Linked DNA regions of Homo sapiens. The protein of the gene in region 1 purifies or fractionates together with the protein of each later gene. This does not show direct contact. Each region holds a gene or a part of one and is shown in the gene's direction. Other genes may lie near its edges. The genes, in order: TAFA3, PPP4R2, PRMT7 and UBP1.

Region 1 (7,074 bases):
AAGACCAGAGGATAGCAAAGGTCCACGGAAAAGGGAGCTCCTGGCCCGGACGCGGCGTGGGGAACGCGTCCTAGCGCCGGGGATGCGGAGCTGGGGAGAGGGGTGGGAGCCCCATCCTGGTTTGGGTGCCCCAGGGGGCGCTCACTCGGCGTAGCCTGTGCTCCAGGGCAGGCGGCGGCCCGTGTCCGGGGGGCTTTGCACAGCCCGGCCCGCGTGGTCATCGGCGCGTCGCAGCCCCCCGGGGCTCAGCTGCAGAAAGGTCGGTCTGGAGAAGCTCGCTCGAGCCTCAACAGCCTTCGCGGGCGTCGCGCTCCCGCTCCCAGCCTTCGCGGGAGGGCTCCTGGGCGCTTCTGGAGCGGCGGCGGGCGGCGCCGAGGCGGCGTTGGGCAGGTCCGGGGATTTGGGGCGCGGAGGCGGAGCGCCCCCGGAGCTCACCAGGTGCGCCACGGCCGAGCGCACCCGGTTTAGCATGCTGCCTCCCTGCCCCGCCCTCGGCCGCGGCCCCGCCCCCGCCCAGGCCCCGCCCCCATGGCTCCGCGTGGGCGGTGCTCGCGCCAGCCGGCCCTTCCCTGCTACTGGCTCCCGGCCAGCTGGGCGGGTCCCGGGCGAAACTTGCCCTTGCTCTGGGCCACCCCAGGAACCGGCCCACGGGTCCCCGGCCTCTGCCCCGCCCCATTCCGGCTTGGCCCCGCCTCCGTTTCTTAGGGGTAGGTTCTGTTGCTGTGGGAAGGGGGCGGAGAGAAGGAAACCTTATTTCAGCCGTGCGCTAGATTAGACACAGCTAGAATGTCTCCATTGTGACGGGGGCTGAGGGACAAGGGGGTGCGGTCTCCTCGCTCTCGGTTCGGTGTGGCCAGCCAGCCCAGAGAGCCATGGAGCTAATGACCTCAGAGCAAAACAGGCGCTTGGGAGCCGCTGGGTATGAGGCGCCAGGTGTGACACCACCTCTGGATGGGGCTGCTGGAGCGAGAGCGGGCAAGCTGGTACCGGGTGGGGTTGCGGGATTAATGACGCAGGCTGCAGCCGACCACCCCGGAATCAGGAGCCGGGGTAGATTCCTGGGCTCCTGATGCGCTGTTCCCCGTGAAGACCACCTCTAGATCTGGGAGAGCGGTTGCTACTCCCACCCTCCTTTCTCTCTCAGAACCCAGGTCTTTCCCACAATGCAGACCTTCCCTGACCACAGCAGGACAAGCTATTAATAGGATAATAACAACATAACAAATACTATTTATTGAAGAAGTACTGCATACTAGACCCTTTACAAAGCACGTTCCATACAGTATTAGGTTATTTATACTGCACACCAATCCTTCAAGATGGTTTTTTTTCTGTCAGTTTCACGGATGAGGCAGGACGGGACGCTTCCTGTCATTTTACCGTGACTTGCCCCAGGAGGTCACACGGTCAAGTGAAAGATTCACACCTATGTCGGCCTCCTGACATTCAAACCTGCTCTGTCTTAAGAACCAAGCTTACTTCTCCGGATCAGGGAGGAAGGGCTAGAAAGGAGATCAATGGCAGAGAGAGGAGTGGGGGTTCCTCCCCTCCCATCCTTCTCTTAGGGCCAGGGCTGAGAGCAGTCCGGGAATGCTGAGCAAGTTCTGTGTCTACCGCCAGGGGGAGACAGAGGCCAGGCTAAGCCCTTGCCTAAGAAGAGTAAAAGCACACTCACTGGAAGACCAGGACAGAGCCCAATGCCTGGTTGGCTGCCCGTTCTTCCTAACTTCTCCCCTCTGGGAGAGGGTGGTACTGACCTGATGCCACAAGAGCTCTGTCTCTAAACCTCCTATCAGAAAGTTGATCGCTAGGTATCCACAGACACCACCCATCCACACATCTCAAATGGGGACAACGCCGTTGTGGCCCTCAAGCAAGTTGGAAGTAGCCATCAGGGACTACGGCACCCAGTTCACGGCTGGAACTTTTCTGGGCTCTGTCGGCCAGGTGCTTCCTGACCACATACCACTTTGTTCCCCAGGCTAAACTGTGTCCCCAGAAGGGATGACTTTCTTGGCAGCTTCCAAATAAAGATCCCACAGTGGTCCTTCAGGTTGGTAGACTTACTATGCCTGCTTTGTTACACCTGAGCTTTAGGCAGAGAGAGACAGAGGAAAAGAAGTCACAGGAGAGAAAAAAAACAGACCCCAAGGCAAATAGAGCAGCAAAAGAAGACGGGGACAAAGAACAGGCTGCTTCTATAGGTTTTCCCCTGCTATTTGAGAAAAACTGGAACCAACTCTCAGATAAATAACAGCAGCAGCAAGCCAGCAACTGAAGAAACAAATATAACTCCTGGTTGTTTTTATTATTCAGTGTTTCTGGGACAGTTTACTTACCACTTCTTCGTGTCACCCAGCTCCCTATTCCCTGCCCTTTCTAGCACCCACCATGGTGTGGCTGCAAGCTGTCCGCAAAGCTAAGCCAAGAGACCCCCCCAGCCCCAGCACCAGATGATCAGCAGGGAGAATAACAGCTCCCTGGGGCTCCAGAACAGCCCCCAGCCATGGCCTAATCCTAAGGCTCCTCCTCCCTGAACCTCTCACCTCCTATTCCTGGCACCATTATGCCTCCTCCATCCTCAGACTGCCCCAGAACCTGGTGAGGTCATCACCTCTACTCATCCCTGAGGCAGCGGAAAGTGAGAGAGAAAAGGGGATGGGGTATGAAGAAGCAGACTTGTGGGATGTTTTTCTCTGTGAAGAGTGAGACTCTGCTTAGTGGCTGGCCCTGCTGGGGGAGTGTGAAGCTTGAACCAAGGAGGGGGACTGGACAGCCTCAAGACAGGCCCCTTTATCTCAGGCCACAGTGGTGGCTCAGGGCCCAGAACTGGTCATCTTCTGCCTTGTCTCTCCCCTTCACATCACCCTAAACCCAAAGGCCTCTTAAACTAAGAGGAAAGTCCCTTCAAATTCACAGAACACCACTTCCTCTCATTTGTCTAATACATTCGCATCCAAAACAGATCTCTGTAAAGAATTATTCAGTTGCAATTAATTACATTACAATTTTTCTGATAAAGAAACTGGGTCTCAGGCCAGGAGTGGTGGCTCACACCTGTAATCCCAGCACTTTGAGAGGCCATGGTGGATGGATCAGTTGAGTCCAGGAGTTCAAGACCAGCCTGGGCAACATAGCAAAACCCTGTCTCTACAAAAAATACAGAAAATTAACCCTGGCTTGGTAGTGCACTACAGACTACCCCTATAGTCCCAGCTACTCAGGTGGCTGACATGGGAGGATCATTTGATCCCAGGAGGTGGAGATTACAATGAACCAAGATCTGGGTGACAGAGTGATGAGATCCTGTCCCCAAAAAATAAATAAATAAAAAAGAAAAGAAAAAGAATGAAAGAAAGAGAAGGAAGGAAGGAAGAAAGAAAGAGAAACAAGAAACTAGGTCTCAGAATTTGGTTCCCATGTTGGTATTCACACTTAACATCCATAGGGACCATTCATAGCCTACTACTGTCCTCCTGCCTAATGCCCACACCCTCATACTTCCTCTAGCCCTCCCAGCCCCTGAGAGCACCACTCCTGGGAGAGGAAGAGATATTTACTATTCCCTCCTAAATATCATTCTAGAAGAGTGCTGCTGAACAGAACTTTGTGCACTGACGGGAATGTTCTACATCTGCTCTGTCCAATACAGCAGTCCCTATCTTCGTGTGGCTATTGAGCATTTGAAATATGGTGCCTACTAATGAGGAACTGAATTTTAAGTTTTATTTAATTAATTTAGATTTAAATTTAAATATCAACATGCCACTAGTGGCTACCGTATTGGACAATGCAGTTCTGCAATCTTCAAAGCTCAAAAACCCTGAGGGTCTAGTCAATCACTCCTCACTCCCAGCTCCTTTCCCCCCAGCACCTCCACCTCCCCTGAGCCAGGGCACTGGGGGCCACAAGACCTTCAGGGTTTTGAGGGACCTCCTCTGAGTTGCCACCACGGAGGTGTCCATCCTCACTGAACCTGCGGGTGCCGGATGTCCTCTCTCCCTTCCTCTTGCCCTCGGCCGCCAGGGGCCGCTGCGTCTCGGCTGTGCCCATCCGTTCAGCCGAGCGCCTGGCACTGTCCCGAAGGAGGCGGCGGCGCCCACGCGGGGCTGGAGGAGCGGGGGTAGCCCGGGGCGAGGCGGCGGTTGCGGCGGCGGCTGCGCGCTCCCCGGCCTGCCGGCAGGAACCTTGGAAAAAACCCGGCTGAGTTCTGCAGAGCTGGCGGGGCCGGGCCCAGAGCTCCCCTGTGCCCAGAGCCCGGCCCGCCCTGCGGATGATGCCAACCTGACCAGAACCCCGCTGTCCCGGGGGCGCAGCAACTTGGTGAAGGGGACAGGGCTCCGGACTAGACAGCACCCAAGCTGGCCGCTCCCTCCCAAAGTCTGTCTTTCGGAGTGCTGGTCCCTGGCTCAGTGGCAAGGAAGACTTCAGGCCAGCAGATCGAACCAGTGGGCATCACCGTGGACCAGGTAGGTCCCAGGTGTGGGGGCTCAGAATGTGGAGGAATGAGTAGGCGTTAGGGGGGTTTGTGGGGAGAGAAGGTGAAGAAAGGTTGAAGATTCTTGTGGTTCACATCCTCAAACCCTTGTAATGCAGGCTGCTAACTCAGCCTCACTAAACCCCTGGATTGGGATTTAGGAAAAATAGGCTAGGAAATTGAGGCAGGAGCATGGAAGTCGAAAAACACATCCCAGAAGCTTCTATGTCCAGCTGTTTCAGGGAGGGAGGGAATAGAATGCCAGGGATGAGAGCCCAAATGAACACCCCCACCCCTCTGCTCCCCACCCCACCAAGGTCTTTTGGGCCTTGGGGTTCCTAGGAGAGATGCCTGAGTTGGATTGGAGGATGTTGCAGCTCAGAGGGAAATAGGATCACCTGAGAGAAGACAAAGCTGCATTTGTGATGGTCAAAAGGAGGGTTCCTGGAGGGCAGGGAGAAGAGATCTCTACTCAGGAAAGAGGCACATCTAGAAGAGTGGGAAGCTCAGCCCAGGGAGCACACCCATCCCCTGGGAACTGGCACCTCTTCTCTGTGTTCCTCCAGATTCCCCTTATGCTCTCGCTCCTAGGAGCTAGGACTCAGGGGTCTCTGTCCTTCCGGGGCCCCACCATCCTATATGTTTCAGTTCTGCCTCCCTTTAGAGAGGTGAGGGAAGAGAGGTTCTTAGGGAGAAATGGAAAGCTATTGGAGGCTGTGGCCTTCAAAGGCTCAGGGACCTGGAGTGTCCCCATTCCAGCCCTCTGGTGTGGGAATGGGGGCAAGGGATGCTAAGCCAAGCCAGCTCCATGTGAGTCCAGGAAGCAGGTGCCATAGTGGGTAGGAGGTGGAAGCAAAGAGGATCAGGGCCTCAGGTATCTCCCACGTGCCTCTTCCAGCAGGAATCTGTCAGGTTCTGCTCCTTCCTTGACCCTCAGCTCCCTCCCAAGGCCAGAGAGATGACAGCTGTGATTCTTAGACCCCTCCCTACCATCACCCTGCTTCACTCTTGGGATAGAGAAACTCCCTCAGGCCACCCTTCTCAGGCTCACCACCCTGTGTGATCCCAGAGTCTGCAAGAGCCCCTCCAGATTCCCAGGCCAGAAGAGACTGTCCCTGCCCTGGCACCTGAGAACAGCTTCAGAATTGGGCTGAACTTCAGTGCCCAGCCCACCCCCTTGCCCTCTCCCAGGTTCTCCTTCACCCCCTGCAGAGCCATCGGCTCCCTCTATCCTTTGCAACCCCCTATGAATCTTTCCTACTTGTCCAGGTGGAGTGAGTCTGAGGACAGCAGATGAACAGACAGAAACTGAAAGATCCCCAAAAAGGTAAGTGGGGAGACATTGAAGATGGGGAGTAGCGGGGGTGGACAGAGATCAAGTACCCTATCTGAGGAGCAACTGGGTCCTAGCAGTTGGTTTGGCCTCTGGTATTCCCAAAGCTGCACTGGCACTTGTGGGGGCCCAGCAGTGGTCCAGGCTCACCCCTGAGCTTTTGGCCTTGCTGCATCCTGGGACTTCTCCTGCTCCCTTCAATGGCTGGGCAGCTCCTAGCTACTCTGTGCCTCTTGCTTCCTTAGGATTCCCTCCATTTCCAGCCTACCCTTCAGGGTAGCTTTGGGAGGCCCAAACCATCAACGATGAAAGAGGAAAAGGAAAGGGGAAGAGAACAGAGGCAAGGTGGTGCAGTGGGCAGAGGGCAGGCTTCTAGGCTCTGAACTCTTCCACCCACATGCTGCCTGGCCTTGGGCAAGTCATTTGACTTCTGTTAGCCTCGGTTTCACCTCTTCCTTTTTAAATTTAAATTCTGTTTAAATTGAAGTGCTACTGCATTCCCGTGGTTGGCAGCTCAAAAAGCAAGAAATAAATCAGGAGAAAAAGTCTCTCTTCTACCTCCATCTCCCAACCAACCAGTTTCCCTTTTGGATGGCAAACAATATTACTAGTTTTAAAATATATTTTTCAAAGCTAGTTTATGCATATCTGAGCAACATAGATAATCCTTCCTTTATACACATTTTATTTTATTTATTTTTGAGCTAGGGTCTCACTCTGTTGCCCAGGCTGGAGTGCAGTAGCACAGTCATAGATCACTGCAGCCTCAAACTCCTGATCCTCTCACCTCAGCCTCTGGAGTAGCTGGGACTATAGGTGTGCACCACCATGCCTGACTAATTTTTTAATTTTTTGTAGAGATGGGGTCTTGCTATGTTGCCTAGGCTGGTCTCGAACTTCTGGCCTCAAGTGATCCTCCTGCCTTGGCCTCCCAAAGTGCTGGAATTAGAGGCATGAACCACCACTCCTGGCCTGCCTTATACACATCGTATACACACCATTCTACACTTTGCTTTTTTTCCCCCTTAACAGTGGATTATCACTGGAGATCACTGCATGTGTCAGGACATAAAGCAATTCCCCATTGGTTTTTTTACAGCTATCTGGATGGGACTGCATTTGTACAGACTCTTTACGATGTATTCAGCCAGTCTTTTACTGATGGTTGTTTAGGTTATGTCCTAGCTTTTTGAGCTTTGGTTTTCTCATCTGTAAAACAGGTAATAATAATGTTGCTTTGTAGGACAGTTGTGAAGAATTCAAG
Region 2 (7,034 bases), on another chromosome or scaffold:
ATGTATTCACTAAGCATGTTTTGTACTGAAATGATTGGTGTAGTTAGATTCTTATATTCAATGGAATTTGGAAAATATTTTTTATTTTATTATGTAAATAGCAGCCAGTGTTTATGCATTTAGCTTTAAGCTTTGATTTCTTTTTATCAACATGGCATATCTTTGATACTGACATTTGCAGAGTTTCTGCTACCTATTTATGGCTAAACTAAGCTTTGTCTAGTATGTGAGATTGTAACGAGAGAATGAAAATGAAAATTTAAAGAACAGCAATTTAGACTTTTCTGATGTTTTAGGATGGGTGGATTGCTTAAGATAAGCATTTCCACCGGATGTGGTGGCTCATGCCTGTATCTCAGCACTTTGGGAAACAGTGGGTCACTTGAGCTCAGGACAAAAAATTTAAGTTACCTGAGTGTGTTGGTACATGCCTATAGTCCCAGCTTCTCCAGAGGCTGAGGCAGAAGGATTGTTGGAATGTGGGAGGTTGAGGCTGCAGTGAGCCATGATGGTTGGTGCCACTGTACTGCAGCCTGAGTGACAGAGTGAGACTCTGTCTCAAAAAAAAATTTCATAGTTGTTTTTATTTTCACTGATGCATTATAGCAAGAAAGCATTAACAGAAGTAGTATGTGAAACTGTTTATGGATCAAAATCAGTGACCCCCCAGGCTGCTTAGTTTTCTTTTCAAAAGACAATTGATTTGACACTTGCTTTTAGCTTTAGAGAGGTTTTAGAATTGTAAGTATAGGCTTTTACAATGGAGGAGGTTGTAGGAAAAATGGAGGAGGCCGTAGGAAAAATTTGAACATTTTTACTTCTTAGTCTATTAAAATTACCTGTAAACATCTGATGTAGGAAGTTAGGAAAGATGCCAAGACATACTAAATTGATGTGAAGAGGGAAACTATATATGTATATAACTAAAATAATTAATCCCCAGGTGAATTGTTTCTGGCCACTTCAAAAAATTGTTTTTATGTTGGAAAGAATACACTCTTCTGAAGGTAATGTAGTTTCTGACATCATGCTAAATATATAGTATGCGCTGAATAAACAGGAACATATGGTGTGTTTCAATCATGAATTTAAACACTTGATGCATTTCAGTCATGGATTTAAAGGTATTTGATGGGTTTGAGTTGCAATTATTATCCTTTTTGACGGTCAAGTTGTCTCCCATTTGGTCAGTGGTAGCCTTTTCCAGTTGGCTCCAGAGTCCTTTTGACGTGACCTTAGTAGTTTTTGATAGTATCCTTATTCTCTGGTATAAGAATATGTTCCAAGCTCATTTCCTGCCCCAGATGTGAATCAGATATTTCTCAAGAAGACCTGCCTTTTAGTGGGAAATGGCATTTCAAGACTACAATCTTGGTGGTAGAGAAGTTTATTATTACTCAGCTACATAAAATACTAAGACTTGCAATTCAGAATGAGGAATACAGCGTTTTAAAAAGTTTTTTTTTTGTTTAGGTAAAATATACTTATATAATTTACTGGCCAGGTGCAGTGATTCATGTCTGTAATCCCAGAACTTTGAGAGGCTGAGGCAGGTGGCCCAGGGTCACTTGAGCCCAGGAGTTCGAGACCAGCCTGGGCAACATGGTGAAACCCGTCTTTACAAAAAATATAAAAAATTAGCCTAACGTGGTGGCATGCGCCTGTAGTCCCAGCTACTCCCAGCTACTTGGGAGGAGGAGGTAGGAGGATCACCTGAGCCTGGGAGGTTGAGGCTGCAGTGAGCCGTGATTGTGCCACAGCACTCCAGTCTGGGCAACAGAGTAAGACCTTGTCTCAAACACACACATGCACACTTGCACACTTATGTAATTTACCATCTTTACCATTTTAGTTTTCTTTCTTCTTTTTTTTTATTTTTTTGAGATGGAGTCTCGCCCTATGCCACACTGGATCGTAGTGGCGCGATCTCGGCTCACTTCATCCCCCACCTCCTGAGTTCAAGCGATTCTCCTGCCTCAGCCTCCTGAGTAGCTGGGACTACAGGCACACACAACTAATTATTGTGTTTTTAGTAGAGACAGGGTTTCACCATGTTGGCCAGGATGATCTCTATCTCTTGACCTCGTGATCCACCTGCCTTGGCCTCCCAAACTGCTGGGATTACAGGCGTGAACCATCGCCCCCGGCCCCATCTTTAGCATTTTAAGTGTACAGTTTGGTGGTAATAAATACATGTATATTCTTTTTTCTCCCCTTTTATCTCTCCTGTTCCTTGCTCAGTCTCTAGTAATCATCAGTCTTTAGACTCTTACCTTTGTGAGATCCACTGTTGTAGCTCCCACATATGTGAAAACGTGATGTTTGTCTTTCTGTGCTTGACTTAACTTCACTTAACATAATGGCCTATAGTTCCATCCATGTTGTTGCAAATGACAGGATCTAATTCTTTTTTATTGCTGAATAATATACCACATTTTCTTTTCCATTGATGGGAACTCAGGTTGGTTCCTTGTTTTAAAAAAATGTATTTTTGAGGCAAGGTCTTGCTGTTGCCCAGGCTTTAGTGCAGCAACTCAGTCATAGCTCACTGCAACCTCAAACTCTTAGGCTCAAGGGATCCTCTTGCCTCAGCCTCCTGAATAGCTAGGACTTACAGATAGGGTACATGCCACGATGCCTGGCTAATTTATAATTTTTTTTGTAGAGACAAAGTCTTGCTATGTTGCCTAGGCTGATCTCCAACTCCTGGCCTTAAGCAATCCTCCCAGAGTGCAAAGATTACAAAGCATGAGCCATTGCACTGAGCTGGTTTCATATTTTGGCTGTTGTGAATAGTGCTGCAGTAAACATGGGAGTGCACAGGGATTTTTCTTTTCTTTTCTTTTCTTTTCTTTTCTTTTTTTTTTTTTTTTTTTTTTTTTGAGACGGAGTCTCGCTCTGTCACCCAGGCTGGAGTGCAGTGGCGCGATCTCGGCTCGCTACAACCTCTGCCTCCTGGGTTCAAGCGATTTTCCTGCCTCAGCCTCGTGAGTAGCTGGGATTACAGGCATGCGCCACCACGCCTGGCTAATTTTTTTGTATTTTTAGTAGAGATGGGGTTTCACTGTGTTAGCCAGGATGGTCTCGATCTCCTGACCTCGTGATCCATCCACCTTGGCCTCCCAAAGTGCTGGGATTACAGGTGTGAACCACTGCGCCTGGCCCAGGGTTTTTATAACTTTTTGCATACCAGGAATCCTGGTTCTCTCAAGAACACAGGCAGGGTATGATAGAATCAGGATGTCTTGTAATTACTGATTGTAACCAACATTACACATCAGAAAGTCTAAAATAATAATGCGAATATTACTGCCACCAATATAATTACTAGGAATGTTAAATTTTTTTTTTTTTACATATTCTCTATTTCTAGCCCCCATTTAAAAGTTTTTCTGTCTCCCTTGTCTGAGCATATTGCTATTACGTAACTTTCCCTTTTGTTTTTTTTTTTTGAGACAGAGTCTCACTCTGTTGCCCAGGCTGGAGTGCAGTGGTGCGATCACAGCTCACCGCAACCTCTGCCTCTTGGGTTCAAGTGATTCTTGTGCCTCAGCCTCCTGAGTAGCTGGGGTTACTGGCACGTGCCACCATTGCCTGGCTAATTTTTGTGTTTTTAGTAGAGACGGGGTTTCGCTGTGTTGAACAGGCTGTTCTCGAACTCCTGGCCTCAAGTGATCCTCCCCCTGCCTTTGCCTCCAAAGGTGCTGGGATTACGGGCATAGTCACTGCCCCGGCTGACTTTCCCTTTTAACTGTCAATCTTAGTTTTACAGTAGGTATATATCTCATGCCTACAACCAGTCCTTATGTCATTGTCATTGTATTCTCTCTGTCTCTCGTCAGTTTGGTTGTCTGAATGAAGCTTATTCTTTAATAGATTATTGAAAAGCGGCTAATTGAAACAATATTTCTGGAGTTTTTTTTTGTTTTGTTTTTTTTTGAGACAGAGTCTTGCTCTGTTGCCCAGGCTGGAGTGCAGTGGTGCGATCTTGACTCACTACAACCTCCACCTCCTGGGTTCAAGCGATTTTTCTGCCACAGCCTCCTGAGTATCTGGGATTACAGGTGCATGCCACCACGCCCGGCTACTTTTTTGTATTTTCAGTTGAGACGGGGTTTCTCTGTGATGGCTGGGCTGGTCTCGAACTCCTGACCTCAGGTGATCTGCCTGTCTTGGCCTCCCAAAGTGCTGGGATTACAGGCGTGAGCCACTGTGCCTGGCCTAACTTTTGTATTTTTAGTAGAGATGGGGTTTCATCGTGTTGGCCAGGTTGGTCTCAATTTCCTGACTTCAAGTGATCTGCCTGTCTCGGCCTCCCAAAGTGTTGGGATTACAGGCATGAGCCACTGCGCCTGGCCTGGAGTTCTTATGTGTATGTCTTGTATGTTGTCTGTGCCTTTTATTCTTTTTTTTTTTTTGCCCCCCTTTTTATTTCCCCTTTTTGTTGAGCATGGGGTCTCGCTATATTGCCCAGGCAGGTCTCAAACTCCTGGGCTCAGGCTATCCTCCCGCCTGTGCCTCCCTAAGAGCTGGAATTATAGGCATGAGCCACCGTGCCTGGCATGTGCCCTTTAATCTTGAAGGTCACTTTGGCTGGAAGTAAAATCTTTGGTTCACATTTTCTATCCTTGAGTGTCTTAAGTTTGTTAATTCTATTGTTTCCCCCCAGTAAAACTGTTAAAATCTATTTATTTTTGAGACAGAGTCTTGCTCTTTTGCCCCGGTTGGAGTGCAGTGATGCAATCTTGGTTCACTGTAAACTCTGTCTTCCCACCTCATCCTTCCCGGTAGCTGGGACTACAGGTATATGCCACCACACCTGGCTAATTTTTGTGTTTTCTGTAGAGATGGGGTTTCACCATGTTTTTAGGCTGGTCTCCTGAGCTTGAACTCCCGAGCTTAAGTGATCTGCCCACTTTGTTGGCCTCTTAAAGTGCAGGGATTACAGAGGTGTCACCATGCCTGGCCAGCTGTTAACATCTGATGATAATTTTTTTTACCTTATAAACTGCCCAATCTTTTTGCCTACCTTCCTAAAAGATTTTTTTCTTTAAAATACAGTGTGGGGTGTGTGTGTGTGTGTGTGTGTGTGTTTGTTTGTTTGTTTGTGTGTGTGTGTTTTGAGTCGGAGTCATGTGTGTGTGTTTGTGTGTTTTGAGTCGGAGTCGTGTGTGTGTGTGTGTGTGTGTGTGTGTGTGTGTGTGTGTGTGTGTTTTGAGTCGGAGTCTTGCTCTGTTGCCCAAGCTGGAGTGCAGTGGCGCCATCTCCGCTAACCGCAATCTCCGCCTCCCAGTAGCTGGCATTACAGGTGCCCACCACTATGCCTGGCTAATTTTTGTATGTTTAGTAGAGACGGGGTTTCACCATATTGGCCAGGCTGGTCTCAAACTCTTGACCTCGTGATCTCCCCGCCTTCGCCTCCCAAAGTGTCAGGATTACAGGTGTGAGCCACTGCGCCCGGCCAAAATACAGTGGTTTTTATAGACTAGATCTTTAAAAGCATTTTGAAAATCAATGTTGGATATTTTGGAGTCATTGTACTCAGGTATATGGTGTGGTCTTTTTTTTTTTTTTTATCCACTTATCTACACACTGGTGGTGTAGTCTTTCAATATGAATTTTTAAATTTTTAAAAAATATTAAATATTTCAAGAAAGTGAATTGTTGTCTTTGGTTTTTTTGTTGGGGAGGGGAGGGAGACTATATTGCTGCATCTTTGCATATCTTCAGTACTTATCATTTTGTCTTGAATTCTTCTTTTGAGTCCTTTTTTAAAAAGCAGTGTTACGGGCCGGGTGCGGTGGCTCACGCCTGTAATCCCAGCAGTTTGGGAGGCTGAGGCCGGCGGATCACCTGAGGTCGGGAGTTCAAGACCAGCCTGACCAACATGGAGAAACCCCATCTCTACTAAAAATACAAAATTTGCTGGGTGCGGTGCATGCTTGTAATCCCAGCTACTCGGGAGAATCACCTGATCCCGGGAGGCAGAGGTTACAGTGAGCCGAGCTCACGTCGTTGCACTCCAGTCTGGGCAACAAGAGTGAAACTCTGTCTGCAAAAAAAAAAAAATCAGTGTTATTGAGGTATAATTGACATACAATACACTGTATTTATTCGAAATGTACAGGTTGCTAAGTTTTCATATCTACACTCAGGAAACCATCACAACAATCAAGATTGTGAACATGTTCATTCATTACTCCCAGAAGTTTGCTCATGCCCCATTGTAATCTTCCCTCCCTGTGTGTGCTGCCTTCCCTCCAAGCAACTTTTTGTCAATGTAGATTAGTTTGTGAGTTCTAGAATTTTATGTAAATGGAACCATACAGTATGTATTCTTTGGCTTCTTCTATTCAACATAGTTTGTATTTCTTTTTATTTCTGAGTAGATGCATCGTATGAATATGCCACAATTTTTTTTTTTTTTTTTTTTTTTTTTTGAGATGGAGTGTCGCCCTGTTGCCCAGGCTGGAATACAGTGGTATGATCTCGGCTCACTGCAACCTCTGCCTCCAGGTTCAAGCTATTCTTCCGTCTCAGCCTCCCTGGTAGCTGGGGCCACAGGCGCGCGCCACCATGCCTGGCTAGTTTTTGTATTTTTAGTAGAGACGGGGTTTTACCACATGGGCCAGGCTGACTCCTGACCTCGTAATCCACCTGCCTCGGCCTCCCAAAGTGCTGGGATTACAGGCGTGAGCCACCACACTTGGCCCAGAGTAGCTTTTCTAACTACATGGAGCACTCTCGTTGGTTTTGTGAAGTGTTTTAAGAACACGGCAGTTTGCATTCTGAAATTCCAGGCTGTGTTCTCCACTTCTGCTTTTTTTTGAACCTTGTCTTCATTTCTCTTGACTCTTTCTCCTCATTGTGGGGCTTACCTCTAGATTGGAGCACTGTTGGGTCACTTTCAAGAGCTCAAGTGAGCAAGACCTGCTTCGTCTTTTCGAACTCAGAGCAGTCTATTCACTCATTGCTAGAGTTGGCAAAATCCATCTCAGTTTCAGCTGCTGTTCTCAAATTGGTCTGCAGTGATT
Region 3 (7,034 bases), on another chromosome or scaffold:
GTCAGTATTGTTTTGTGGAACATTTAGTTGTATGCGTACATGCAGGTATGTGTATTGAGTCTCATTTTAAAGTATATTTCTTACTGGGGTTATCAGAAAGTTTGAAAATCATTAGACTAGGGGATAGGTATGCTGAGATTTTAGTAGTAGAGTTTTACCTGGACAAATTGTCTACTTTGAACCTGACTGCCGGCCTGAGTTTGTTCAGGGAAGATTGTTTCTAATCTATTTGCTTTTTGTTTGTTTGTTTTGGTGACGGAGTCTTACTCTGTTGCCCAGGCTGGAGTGCAGTGGTGCGGTCTCAGCTCACTGCAACCTCCGCCTCCTGGATTCAAGTGATTCTCCTGCCTCAGCCTCCTGAGTAGCTGGGAATACAGACGTGCGCCACCATGTCTGGCTAATTTTTGTATTTTTAGTAGAGACGAGGGTTTCGCCATGTTGGCAAGGCTGGTCTTGAACTCCTGACCTCAGGTGATCCGCCTGCCTTGGCCTCCCAAAGTGCTGGGATTACAGGTGTGAGCCACCGTGCCCAGCCTGTTTCTCATCTATTTGTGTAAGAATTCCATGTTTACTTACTCTAGATAACTTCAAAAGAAAAAAAACTCTGGCCAATAAAATGCCATAGGAATGTTTAGGGATATGTGGAGTAGGCATTCTTTCTAAGTTTTCCTGAAGATGCACCAATGTTTAACAAGAAAGGAAGGGCAGTGTAGAACACCTATTGCTTTCTGCATGGTAAGAGGGATGGGTATTGGGAGAGCCCACACCTGCTGAGGAGTGCCTTTAGACTTTGAGCGGTGGTGTTTCTCTCCCTCCCAGAAATAGATCTCTTTGGGGAGACAGGCCATACAAGACGTGAATCTGGTGACATTTTACTTGTTTGAAGCAAAATTTTTTTAGATGATGGAGGGTTTTTAAAAATTGCTTTTAAAATTAAAATTTGAATAGATAAGAAGTAATCACTATAAAAAATAATGAAGCATAAGGAATGCTAGTATTAGCTGGGTGTGGGGCACTCACTTGTAGTCCCAACTACTGGAGAGGCTGAGGCAGGAAGAATGCTTGAGCCCAGGAGTTTGAGTCCAGCCTGGGCAACATAACGAGACCCCATCTTTTAAAAAAAAAAAAAAAGAAAAAGAATGCTAATATCGTGAACATTTATGTTCCCACCACCCAATTTAAGAAAAAGAACAATACTTTTGAAGTCCACTGCGTACCCCTCCTTGATCCCATCTCTTTCCCTTCTCTTTTAGGAGTTAACTATCCTGATTCCTTGCTATGCTTTTTAGTGTGATCCCTGAAGAACGTATCACTCCATTTTGCATAGCTATAAATTTCATAGAAATGGAATCGTATTGCATGTGTTGTGTGATTTGCTGTTTTTGCTCATCATTATATTCCTGGGATTATCCATTTTTAGGTTTATGTGTGACTGTAATTTATTGTTTAGATGAAAGTTTTCCTGGTTTGACTTGCTCTATCTTCATATTTTTCCTTAAGCTAAGGGTTCAGCATACGAAGGCAGTATTGGTGGCACTTCTTTAACAGTACCCCATCTCTTCTCCTAGCCTTGAGGGCTGCACCTAGATGAACTTGTGAGGCTCATTTGAACCTTTTGGAAGCACCGAAGCCTGCTGAAGTTTCCAGACATCTGTATGAATCTGTTGTAGTTTTTTAATGTTATATGCTGAATATAAAACCAAGTAACTCCTGCTGGAAACATTTACAATATCGATTAACAAATACTATCAGTGGCTTTGACATTTTTGTCAGTTTCTTGATTTTTTTCCCCGCTTTTGTCTCCCCTTCCCCCCTCCACATTTTGGGGCATTGTGCTGTTAATAGATTTTTTTTCTGTTCGTTTGTTTATATACCTCCTGTTTCCTTCTGATGTTAATAGATTTCTGACAGTCAGACTTGTCCACAAGAACTCAACTGGCAAGGCTGCTTTTCTGTGCTAAAACTGGGGAGCTAGTGGGCACCATGAAGATCTTCTGCAGTCGGGCCAATCCGACCACGGGGTCTGTGGAGTGGCTGGAGGAGGATGAACACTATGATTACCACCAGGAGATTGCAAGGTACTGGGTTGGTTTACAGCAGGCTGCAGCTGGGTGGGGCACTTGATCTCAAAGCAGATGCCTTGGGCTCCAGTCTGAGCGTGGGCTAGGCTGTCACCCAGTGCTTATGATGAGGGCTGGTGTTGGTCCTGAGCAGGTCTGCTCAGCCAGGTAGGTATATGTAGCAGTTAGGCAAAATCATGCCTGTTTGGAGAGTCAGACATTATGTAGCAGCCTTAGCAGAGCCTCAGCATCTGTTTAACGGAGCAAAGAAAACCCAAGCCTCAGTAGTGTTGATGAAGTTGAATCATTTACTTGCCTTACTGAAATGGTGACATGTTCATCATATGGTTAAATTCTTTTGAATGAAAAAAATGAAAATGGTTTTTTTTTTCCCTTAGAAGAAATATTTAAAAGTATGTGAGTTGTTGGCCAGGCGCAGTGGCTCACGCCTCTAATCCTAGCACTTTGGGAGGCCGAGGTGGCCAGATCACCTGAGGTCAGGAGTTCGAGACCAGCCTGACCAACATGGAGAAACCCCGTTTCTACTAAAAATACAAAATTAGCTGGGCATGGTGGCTCATGCCTGTAATCCCAGCTTACTTGAGAGGCTGAGGCAGGAGAATCACTTGAGCCTGGGAGGCAGAGGTTGTGTTGAGCCGAGATCGAGCCATTGCACTCCAGCCTGGGCAACAAGAGCGAAACTCTGTCTCAAAAAAAAAGTATGTGAGTTGTTATGTAGCAATCATTAAGTGCATTCAGTGTGCCAGCATTGTGCTAAGGCTGTGGATACCAGATGAAGAAGATCCTGTTCTCATCTTCAAGGACCATGCAGTTTTGTGGAAGAGACAGGCACATACAAAATTACAGCACAAAAGCCAGGCACGGTGGCTCATGCCCGTAATCCCAGCACTTTGGGAGGCAAAGGGCGGGCGGGCGGGCGGTGGAGGGGGTGGTGGCGGCTGATCACTTGAGGGTCAGGAGTTCGAGACCAGCCTGGCCAACACGGTGAAACCCCGTCTCTATAAAAAAAAATTAGCTGGGAGTGGTGGTGGGCGCCTGTAATCCCAGGTACTCGGGAGGCTGAGGCAGGAAAATCACTTGAACTCGGGAGGTGGAGGTTGCAGTGAGCCAAGGTTGTGCCACTGCACTCCAGCCTGGGTAACAGAGTGAGACTCTGTCTCAAAAAAAAAAAAAAAAAAATTACAGCACAGTGAGATAAAGGCACAAGAGGTCATGGAAGCAGCAAGAACCAGCTGAACTTGGGGTGGGAGGTAATGTTTGAATAATTTCTCAGTTCTAAAGGAAGAGAAGGTGAAGTTTGAGCAGCAGGGATTACAGGTAAGCTTTCAGATGAGCCAGATTGTGGCTGGGTGCAGTGGCCTACACCTGTAGTCCCAGCTACTTGGGAGGCCAAGGCAGGAGGATTGCTTATGCCCACGAGTTCAACATAGTAAAACACTGTCTCACAAACAAACAAAGACCAAAAACAGGCTGGGCACAGTGGCTCATGCCTGTAATCCCAGCACTTTGGGAGACCAAGGCGGGCGGATCACCTGAGGTCGGGAGTTCGAGACCAGCCTGACCAACATGGAGAAACCCTGTCTCTACTAAAAATACAAAATTAGCCAGGTGTGGTGGCGCATGCATGCCTGTAATCCCAGCTGCTCGGGAGGCTGAGGCAGGAGAATCACTTGAACCTGGGAGGCGGAGGTTGCCATGAGCCGAGATCGTGCCATTGCATTCCAGCCTGGGCAACAAGAGCTAAACTCTGTCTCAAAAAAAAAAAAAGAAAAAAAACCACACACACACAGATGGGCTATTCTGGGGAGCAGCTAGCAGTTTAGTGCAGCTGGAGTGTGGTACAAAAGTACTATGGTAAGAGAGGCTGCCGAAAGCATACGCGGGGTCATTTTGTAAAGGGTGGTAGCAAAATGCAGGAAGAGGAACATGAGTTTAAGTCCAAGCTTTGCCACTTCTTTACTCTCTTGGCCAAGTTACTTCTCTGAGCCTTAATATAAAATAATATATACTTCAATATAGTAATACATTATCTCACAGTATAATACAATTATCTTAGAATTGTTTGATGATTAAATGTAATACAGTATCTGGTGCAGAATTAGGGCTTAAAATATTTACTTTTTTTTCTTTTTTTTTTTTTGAGACAGAGTCTCGCTCTGTTTCCCAGGCTAAAGTGCAGTGGCACGATCTCTGCTCACTGCAAGCTCCGCCTCCTGGGTTCACGCCATTCTCCCGCCTCAGCCTCTTGAGTAGCTGGGACTACAGGTGCCCGCTGCCACGCCCGGCTAATTTTTTGTATTTTTAATAGAGACGGGGTTTCACCGTGTTAGCCAGGATGATCTTGATCTCCTGACCTTGTGATCCGCCCGCCTCGGCCTCCCAAAGAGCTGGGATTACAGGCGTGAGCCACTGCACCTGCCCAGGTCTTAAAATATTTCTAAACATTTTGGACATTATTTTCTTGTTTTATTGTTCAGATGGAGTCTTACTCTGTTGCCTTGGCTGGAGTGCAGTGGCGCAGTCTCGGCTCACTGCAATCTCTGCCTCCCAGGTTCAAGGGATTCTCTTGCCTCAGCCTCTTAGGTAACTGGGATTACAGGCATCTGCCACCACACCTGGCTAATATTTGTGTTTTTAGTAGAGACTTGGTTTCACCTGTTGGCCAGGCTGGTCTTGAACTTCTGACCTCAGGTGATCCACCTGCCTCTGCCTCCCAAAGTGCTGGGATTACAGGTGTGAGCCACAGTGTCAGGCCTGGACGTTATTTTCTGAGTGATATATTAAACAGGAGAGAAAGAGGATTGGATTGCATTTTGGAACACTCACTGAGAGCGGTGTGGAGAGGAGAGCATTTGGGGATATTGTAGTCCCAGAGCTGCATAGTCCCAGAGGAGACAGCTCGGGGGAACTTGAGTTTGGTAACTCACTGGATATGATGGAGGGAGAGAGAAGATTCAAGAAGCACCAAGACTTCTGGTTAGAATGACAAAGTGGATGGGGCCTGCAAGGGAGGAATGGGTGGTGTGGGGAGGGGAACACGATGGAGATTAGGCGTTTAGGTTTGGACATCCACATAGAGATGCCAATGGCAGATAGAATTTTGGGTCTGGAGACAGAATTTGTAGTTGTTGGAACTGAAACTGGGAGAGGTTGCAGTCTCTCAAGGGGGTGTGGAATGTGAAAGGTAGAGGGCTGAAGAAGGAATCCCGGAATAGCTGAGGAGGCAAAGAAGGGCAAGGGAGATAGCCAGCATGGAAAGGAAGAAAGAGGGAGTGTGTCTAGCAAGGTCAGAGGCACTGGGAAGTCCCAGATACTGATGACTGACATCAGCTGCAGGAGTGAGCTGGTGGTGGTTACCGAGAGTGATGTCAGTGGAGTGGTGGGCAGTAAGTGTGAAGAGGCCAGGAAGGTGGTGAGTGAGATGCCTTTTAAATAGTGAGCAGAGGTAGAAAGGACTACATTTCAGCTAAGCATCCATAGCTGGCTTCAGATATAAAACCTTGATGTGCCATTAAAAAAAAAAAAAAAAGAACCCCCTTCTTTCAGTGCACCGCTCTTCAAAGTGTGGAATGTGGACCACCTGTGGCACAATTGCCTGGAGCACATTAGCCCAGCCTTCTCAATAAGAGTGAGAGTGTGTGTGTGTGTGTGTGTGTGTGTGTGTTCTGGGACTCTGCATTTCAGGTAAGCTTTCTAGTGATTCTAGTGTTGACCCAAGGCTGGAGGGCCTCTGTTTTAATGTGAGCTCCTTAGCTGTCCCCTTGAATTCCCAGAAAGCGTGGCAGGGCCTGCCTAGTTCTGGGTGCTCATCCCGACCCCGCCTGAGGGTTTTCAGTGTGTGAATTACTGCAGTAGGAAATATGGAGAAGTGATTCTCCTCCCTTTACTACGGTATTGGTGAACTCTTTAGTTTTCCCTGATGATGTTAAGTGAACGTGCCCAGTGGGGTACCTGTCACATATACAGTGGGTGTATGTGAGTGCTTCTCTTTCCCCGGCTGCTCTCCCTAATACCGCATCAGTGGTTATCTCCAGGCAGAGATGTAGGCCAGGTTAGGTCAAGTATTAGGCAGATTGAGTCTGAGTTTTTCCTGAGGAGGAAAATGTGTAGTGTATAGCAAGATCAAGATGCTAGTGGCTGTGGAATTACTGTGACAGGGCTAACTGCCGAGACCAGCTCGGTCGTGGAGACCCTAACCCAGTGGCGCTAGAGGAATTAAAGACACACACACAGAAATATAGAGTGCAGAGTGGGAATTGGGGGGCTGACAGCCTTCAGAGCTGACAGCCACGAACAGAACTTTACCTACATATTTATTGACAGCAAGCCAGTGATAAGCATTGTTCCTATAGATTATAGATTAAAACGGGAAACAAAGGGATGGGCTCTGGCTAGTTATTTGCAGCAGGAACATGTCCTTAAGGCACAGATCACTCATGCTATTGTTTGTGGTTCAGGAACGCCTTAAGCGAAAGCCGCCCTGGGTGGGCCAGGTATTCCTTGCCCTCATTCCAGTAAACCCACGACCTTCAGTGTGGGCATCATAGCCATCAACGAGCATGTCACAGTGCTGCAGAGATTTGTTTATGACCAGTTTTGGGGCCTGTTTTTGGCCAGATTTGGGGGCCTGTTCCCAGCAGCTAACTACTGGAGCATTTTTAGGTCTGAGAACATCTTTCTCTGAGACTTTTTTCTGCAGCACTAGAGAATAACAGCTTGAAACTCTATTAAAATAAAGTGGCCAGGTGCAGCGACGGATGCTTGTATTGTAGTTCTGCTGAGGCAAGAGGATCTCTTGAGCTAAGGAGTTCAAGGCTGCAGTGCCCAATGATTGAGGCTGTTCATAGCCACTGCACTACAGCCTGGGTGACATAACGAGACCCTGTTTCTAAAAATAAACAAAAAAATAGGCCAGGCGCAGTAGCTCACACCTGTAATCCCAGCACTTTAGGA
Region 4 (7,034 bases), on another chromosome or scaffold:
TATTTTCTCATTTATTGTATGGATATATGGTAACATTTCCTTCTTTCCATACTCTGAAGTAGAACAAAGGCAACATGCTCAGAACTTTAAAAAAAAAAAGATGTGTTAATGGCATTCAGAGATGCAGTTATTTGCCCTAAGAATAGGTAGAGCTCTGAAAAATGTCTTGTGGTTTGAATTTTACTGAAAAATTGGAAGGATAGCATCACTACTGTGAACTTTTCTATTTGGTATTATTTTGACTTCAAAAGCTCTGAATTTTGAGATTAAGTATACAAATTCTTAAAGGATAAAAATTTAAAGGAGATCTCCATGTATCATCAAGAGCTTATACATCACTTAGATATGGCCAAGATTATAATATTTTGGAAGGTGTATTCTCAAACATGAGTGTTTGTGGAGGGATATGGGGAAATATTGGATATTTTCCCATAATCAGCAAACTTTTTCTGTAAAAGGTCAGGTAGTAAATATTTCCATCTCTTTAGATCATACATAGGGTCTCTCACATTCAACTCTGTGATTGTAGTGCTAAAATAGCCATAGACAATATGTAAATTGTAGATAAGGCTGTTCCAGTAAAACTTTATTTAAAAAAAAAAAAAAAAAAAACAAGTGGAGGGCAGGAATTGGCCCATATGGGCTGTGGTTTGGTGACACCTGCTCTAGATCATTTCTATATTCTTACTGTAATTTTAGTTCCAGCTTCTTTTATGTAATGGAAAATTCTGGGTTTCTATACTCACAGACCCCTTGTTTGGGGAAGCAAAGTTCTCAGTAATGATATTCCTGATCCATGTCTGGCTTTAATCAGTAATTGAGCAGGACGTACAAGAGTGAGACTCACTACAGATGTGCACTGTGCAGATGTCTGCTGATAAGTTCTGTGTAGCAAAAATGCAGAACACTGGAATGTGGCTGGGGCTTTCTGTAAGGAAGCATCACACTTCATTGTTTATATTAGCTTTTCATATAGTATCTTTTATTTAAAATTTTTTGTGGGGGAGGGGCATATACAGATAGCTTTTATTCCTTAGGATAAATTCCTAGTAGTAGGATTACTGGATCAAAAACTATAATGCTTAACTGGGCGTGCTGGCTCACGCCTGTAATCCCAGCACTTTGGGAGGCCTAACTGGGCAGACTGCGTGAGCCCAGGAGTTTGAGACAGCTTGGGCAACATGGTGAAACCCTGTCTCTACAAATAATAATAATAATAATAATAATAATAATAATAAAAATTAGCCAGGCATGGTGGCGTGTGCCCCCACCATAGTCCCAGCTACTTAGGAGGCTGAGGTGGGAGGATTGCTTGAGCCTGGGAGGCAGAGGCTACAGTGAGCTGTGATTGTGTCACTGCACTCCAGCCTGGGCAACAAAAAAGGACACTGTCTTAAAAAAATAAACAAAAAGAACTATGACTCTTTTAGGGTTCTTTTTGTATATTGCTAGAAATACATGAAGTATATATTATTTTTAAAAACAGCTTTCTTCAGGCATAATTTACATACCATAAAGTCCTCCCATTGTAAGTATATAATGGTATTTTAGCCAATTTAGAGAGTTTGGCAGCCATTGTCAAAATTCAGTTTGAGTTCCATTATTTCAAGAAGATCCCCCATGTCCATTTGCAGCCAATTCCTGTTTTTAAATTTTGAATACATGAAACTATATTCATTGAATAAAAATATGAAGAAAAATTCAAACCTCAAATCTTTTTGTCCAGGGATTTCTGTTAATGTTTATTAAATTATATTTGTGGATATAAATAATGTATTCTTACGTTTTAGATTGGTAGTTCAAGATTTCAAGGTAGTAAGATGGGGGAAAGAAATAGTTTATTCCCATTTAAAATGTTTTTTTACTTTTTTGGTACTTTGAAAGGTGTGACCTTCGTACAGATCCTACAGATCAGGCAGAAAACAGATCAAAGATTACTGTTAAAATGCTTTTCTTTTTTTTTTTTTAATTTCAGTTTATCATGCAATCTACTTGGAAGAAATGATTGCCTCAGAAGTTGCTCGAAAACTTGCGCTGGTGTTTAATATCCCTCTCCACCAAATTAATCAGGTTTACAGACAGGGTCCCACCGGTATTCACATTCTTGTTAGTGATCAGGTAAATCAAATCATTTGTTTTTCCTTTTCAGACTGGTATTTACTTTTATACATGTAATTGTAGAACTGTAGAAAAATTCTGTGACCTCTTTTGAAAATACTTATGAGAATCATTTTCAGAGAGTTGGGAATCACTTTGGAAGAACTTATAACCAAGAGTTTCAGGCATCCTAGTGATAATATGGAATACAAGCCAAGGAAAACTGGCTTAGCCTCCCCCCAGCCCTTTAGGATGCAGCCAATCACTGGGGCACTCTAGGGATAGTGGCAGGCTTTGGCCCTTTTTATGAGGTGAGTCACTGGATGTGTTTTCCTTTTGTCTATTATTTGATGACTAATTTAAAAAAACATGTAAGATATATAATTTTTCCCCTAGTGATTGGTGGCAAGTAATAATAGAAGAGCACTTTATGCAATTTTTGTTCGAGTCATCATCCACTGGAGCCGGCAGGGAATGTGCCCCTGTGGGTCACATGGGTGACTGACCAGGTCTCTCAGGGACCATTATGGACAGGCATAGTGAACACAAGGCAGTGCAGCACGTGTGCATCTTTGCTGCCTCACACTGCCTTCATGAATTATCGTTTTGGCCATTGAGTCCTGTGTTTGTTTGAGAAGAATATTTACTGTTTTAAAATCATTTTAAGAAACGACAGTTGGATCTTAATTGTACTTACGCATTTACTTTATCCTTCCAGATGGTTCAGAATTTTCAAGATGAGAGTTGTTTTTTATTCTCCACAGTAAAAGGTACTTTGCATGTGTGTGTGTCTTAAAATGCTGGAATCATGAGAGATGGTGTGTGCCTCTAATTAGTGCCTCTCGTGTTTATTCTTTAAAATGATTGCTTTACTCATTTTAAGAAGAAAGTTTGATAAATGAGAATATTTCTAGTGGTTGTAACAGAAATTAGCATATAAGGAAGAGGAGTCAGTCTTTCTAGATGACTGGAAAAAAAAATCTCAATTCATTCAGCCAACGTCTTACTGAGCACTTTGTGTCAGACACCGTGCTTCTGTCGCTCAGTGGATCTATTGAATAAAACAGAATCCATGAAACTCCTATTGGGGAAAGCAAACCAAAATTGGCCAAGAGATACACAAAATTCCCAATATGTTAAGTTCCATGAAGGAACAGGAAAGTGTGGGGGTACTTATGGATAAGGGAGATCTGGGTTGAGGGGAATATGAAACTGTAAGGCAAGGCTTCTCTGAGGAGGTGTTATTAATCCTGAGACTTGAAGAATGAGAAGAAGCGGGAGCTGGCCATTGGATTAGCATCCCCAGGCAACGTGGGGCTGTGTGCAAAGAAAACACCTGGCTTCTTGGAAAGCCTGGCAGTGGGCCATGTAGGTGCCATGCAGTGTGTGAGGGTGAGCGGATCAGGGCAAATCAAAGCAGGAGGCCGGGTCTGGCATGCGGGGACCGGATGATGATGGTAGTTCGGATTTACTTGAAATGCATTGGGTTGTCACTGAAGTTGTTTAAACAAAGGAGTAGTAATGTGACTAGATTTTTCTTTCACTTTCACAACTCTGTGGAGACAGATGAGAAGGTGGCAAAACGAGGCAGGAGATATCCAGGTGAAAGGTGATGGTATCTTACACGTTTATAGACAGGGTCCCAGTGGGCTCCACTTTTGAGGGAGGAATAGTTCTGACACCTTATTTTCTGTGGAAAGTAACTGGGCAGATGGTGATCTCATTGAAGAGGTAAGTATGGTTGGGGTAAATCAACCAAGAGTTTGATTTTGGATATGTAGAAATGTCAAGTAGGCAGTTGACTATTACCAGTCTGGGGCTCAGAGAAGAGGCCTGGGCTTGAGATGTAAATTTGGAAACCTTCAGCATATCAGCAGTGACTCAAAGCTGTAGAAGTTGTTAAGGTCATTTAGGGAGAGAATATGAAAAGAGCCAGGACCAGGCTTAGGTGGCTCCAACATTAAAGAGGAGGGATTCCTAAATGTAAAATTATTTGAGAAGAGATCATACATTCATAGACTGTTTTAAAAGTCAGGTGAGCTAAGATCCAAATCCGGTCTTAGCACAAAAGCTGCCCCTAGAAGAGGGAGATGTCATGTGTGTCAGGTGTCCCCAGACTACTGAAATACTGATTTTATTTTGCGCCTCACATGTTGCGTATGCCATCAGGTTACCTGCAAGGCTGAGTTTTAACTCTGAACTGGTTCACTCTTTCAGAAACATCTTTAGCCTAGTACCCTTCTGCTCAGTCTTTTGTTTTCACAGCAGTACAGTTTTTACCTTGCATAACTGACATTGTCTGAAAAAGAAGACATATACTATAATTGCATAGTTTTGTTTTGTGAAACCAGCAGACATTTTTTGGTATTAGAAATCATAGGATCTCCCCTCTAATCTCAATTTACTGTTTTGTTTTTTTTTTTAAACTTTGTCGTCATGAGAAAAATCATTTTTTTATGAATGCCTATATTGCTTCTCACTATTTACTGAGAAACACTAGGCAAAAGGAATGATACAGTTTTAAAATGTTTGAAATCTCTGTGAGTAGCTCAGAAATTTTTCTGGAAAAGGTAGATGTACACATTTGCATTTACTCCCTCAGGTCCTCTGCCCTGACACAGTATATTTCACCTGTTCTCCTTCTAGCTCTTGCTCCCCTTATGGACAGCACTATTATTGTGTGTCTTGATAGATGTCCCCCTACCCCCAGAACTGGCAGACAGTGTTGGAATGCGGGCGTTGATAGTGGGCCAGGCTTCGCAGAATGTCTAAAAAGGGAATGTGTACATGAAGTTTTTTGGGGGAAGAGGAGCTAGAGCAAGTTAATCTGCTTGTTTCTCTAGAATCATTTAAAGGTAACCTCTGAATTGGGAAGGGAGGTTGTAGTTGGCAGGGAGTTTTCCATTTAATAGGCTTAATTTCCTAAGCCTGACTGAAGAAATACTGTCTTTCCTTTTTCTGCAGCTGAAAGTAGTGATGGCATCCACATAATTTTGAAGTGATGTCTTATATAGACTGAACTGTATTCAGTACCAAATAGTCACGCTTAAAAGTGTGTGAAGACTGAATCCAAGAAGTCTTGGGATTGGATTTTACCATATGAAATGTTTCATATTGAAAACACAAGATGACCTTTCTAATGAGCTGTATGAGAGGTGAATCTCCTCACTGTCACTGCCATAGCCAAGCATCCTCATGAGAGTGAGCACATCGGCACAGCATGCATCCAGCTCTGGAGGCCACGGTGCAGGCATAGCTGCCTGCTGCTCTGGCAGAGGCCAGTAAATACAGTTCCTAGAAGCAGCCTTTGCTGTCTTTTTACACTGTATGCGGTTTGGAAATGAATGTAGAAACTTACTGTGGGCATTTACCTTTCTGTGCCAGTTTGGCTTTTATTGCCTGAACCTTATGCTGACCTGGAGAGGAGATGGGGGACAGTGCTGTTGTGGGGCCAGCAGTGAATCTGTATGCGGAGAGTTGTGTTGTGCTGATGTGGCCGTTGGTGGTCAGGTAAGAGGCTCGGCACCTTCTTGGAAGAAATCATGTCTGAGGGTGTACGTTTGATATGATCATGCCAGATTGGAGAAGATCCAAGCCAGGAAGATGGGCTTGAAGCAAACTGCATTATCAGGAGTACCTTGGTGAGAGGATCAGTGTAAATCCTAATAGGTACAAAGACTTTTGTGTTTTGGCTTTGTCACAGATTTATTGAAAAACTTTTTTGCTTCTGCTTCCATTTTTAGCATTTTAGTTTCTGGTTTTCATTTTTGGAGATTCCTTGCCTTTTAAACTCGTGGTTTTTCTCTCATTTTCTTCCCTCTCTCCCTCCATCTCTGACCACCCCCACCCTAACCCCCCACCCCCACCATCCTATTAAACATTTTTAAAGCCCTACCCCAGACATTGGAAATAGGTGACCCAAGTAGGGGGAGAAAGTATTATTGTTGATAGCTTCTGACTAGGTGTTAAGGGATCTTCATTATGAACAAGATGAATTTTTTTCTGGAAACACTAGATGTTATCAATCAAACACTAAAATGTACCATACAAATCCCTTAAGCCTCTCAAATATTGAGCTTTAGTACAATCATGGATAGACATTCTGGTGATGATTTAGGGGCTTTTTATACACCACATACTAGCTTCTTTCTCTATAAGAGTGCCTCTTTCATAAAACCAAATGCTTGTCTGCTAGCATACTTTTCAAAGGGAATCCACTGTTTTCTCACTTTCCTCCCATATCTCCGTCCTTCATCCAAAACCTTCCCAGAATCCATCAGCAAGCATGTTTGAGGCCTGTGGTGTAGGGGACTGAATTTTTTTTTTAACTTCTATTCCATTTTAATTGTAGGATATCTTTGTCCATATACCCAGGTGTCCTGATTTGAATGTACTATTTGATCCTCATTGTGTTCAGGCAAAAAATAGGAAATGAGTAATTTTGAGTTTGAAATCTCTCCCAGAAGACAAACTACTTCAGTGAGTAAAAGCTTTGACATTTTATGTTTTATTCATAAAGGGGGTTAATTATTTGCTACAAAGAAGCACGATCTATTTTCATCATCGATTTGAAAATATCTGTAACTCCTATAGATCCTATAGGCAGAGAGTTTTCCTTTCTGACTTTTTCCCTTTGCTTTCGTGTGACCACATGTTTTCTGTACCAGTCACTGGGGAAAGAAGTGAGTTTATCTCGTTTGTTTTAAAAGTTTTGCTTGTCTATTTAGCATTCCTTTTTGGGTCTCAAGATTTATGGAACAATAAATGTCATTTAATGCTGTGTGCTTATTTTGAATTCCTCATCAGGTTTTAGAAGCGGGGTAAAAATACTTAGATGCTTATCAGACTTGAAATTATACTGAGTGGCATTGAACGTGAGTTTGTCCCAGTGAAACAGGCTAAATAAATTTTGGCACCAGCAAATTTGTTACTTTGTT

Evidence for each region.
Region 2: the proteins of TAFA3 (region 1) and PPP4R2 purify together in Homo sapiens (affinity purification with mass spectrometry; 2 studies listed by BioGRID and IntAct, with this or other methods). This does not show direct contact.
Region 3: the proteins of TAFA3 (region 1) and PRMT7 purify together in Homo sapiens (affinity purification with mass spectrometry; 2 studies listed by BioGRID and IntAct, with this or other methods). This does not show direct contact.
Region 4: the proteins of TAFA3 (region 1) and UBP1 purify together in Homo sapiens (affinity purification with mass spectrometry; 2 studies listed by BioGRID and IntAct, with this or other methods). This does not show direct contact.

The regions. Positions count from the first base shown.
Region 1 is NC_000001.11:112,714,831-112,721,904, forward strand, and holds the start of TAFA3 (chemokine-like protein TAFA-3 isoform 1 precursor), read left to right. Parts: upstream 1-4,074; 5' UTR 4,075-4,469; intron 4,470-5,746; 5' UTR 5,747-5,804; intron 5,805-7,074. Other genes in the region: PPM1J (protein phosphatase 1J), read right to left, coding at 146-471. UniProt on the Homo sapiens protein: Plays a role in the regulation of microglia polarization.
Region 2 is NC_000003.12:72,999,778-73,006,811, forward strand, and holds part of PPP4R2 (serine/threonine-protein phosphatase 4 regulatory subunit 2), read left to right. Parts: intron 1-7,034. UniProt on the Homo sapiens protein: Regulatory subunit of serine/threonine-protein phosphatase 4 (PP4). May regulate the activity of PPP4C at centrosomal microtubule organizing centers.
Region 3 is NC_000016.10:68,313,997-68,321,030, forward strand, and holds part of PRMT7 (protein arginine N-methyltransferase 7), read left to right. Parts: intron 1-1,900; 5' UTR 1,901-1,983; coding exon 1,984-2,078; intron 2,079-7,034. UniProt on the Homo sapiens protein: Arginine methyltransferase that can both catalyze the formation of omega-N monomethylarginine (MMA) and symmetrical dimethylarginine (sDMA), with a preference for the formation of MMA.
Region 4 is NC_000003.12:33,388,396-33,395,429, reverse strand, and holds part of UBP1 (upstream-binding protein 1), read left to right. Parts: intron 1-1,975; coding exon 1,976-2,118; intron 2,119-2,815; coding exon 2,816-2,867; intron 2,868-5,061; coding exon 5,062-5,099; 3' UTR 5,100-7,034. UniProt on the Homo sapiens protein: Functions as a transcriptional activator in a promoter context-dependent manner. Modulates the placental expression of CYP11A1. Involved in regulation of the alpha-globin gene in erythroid cells.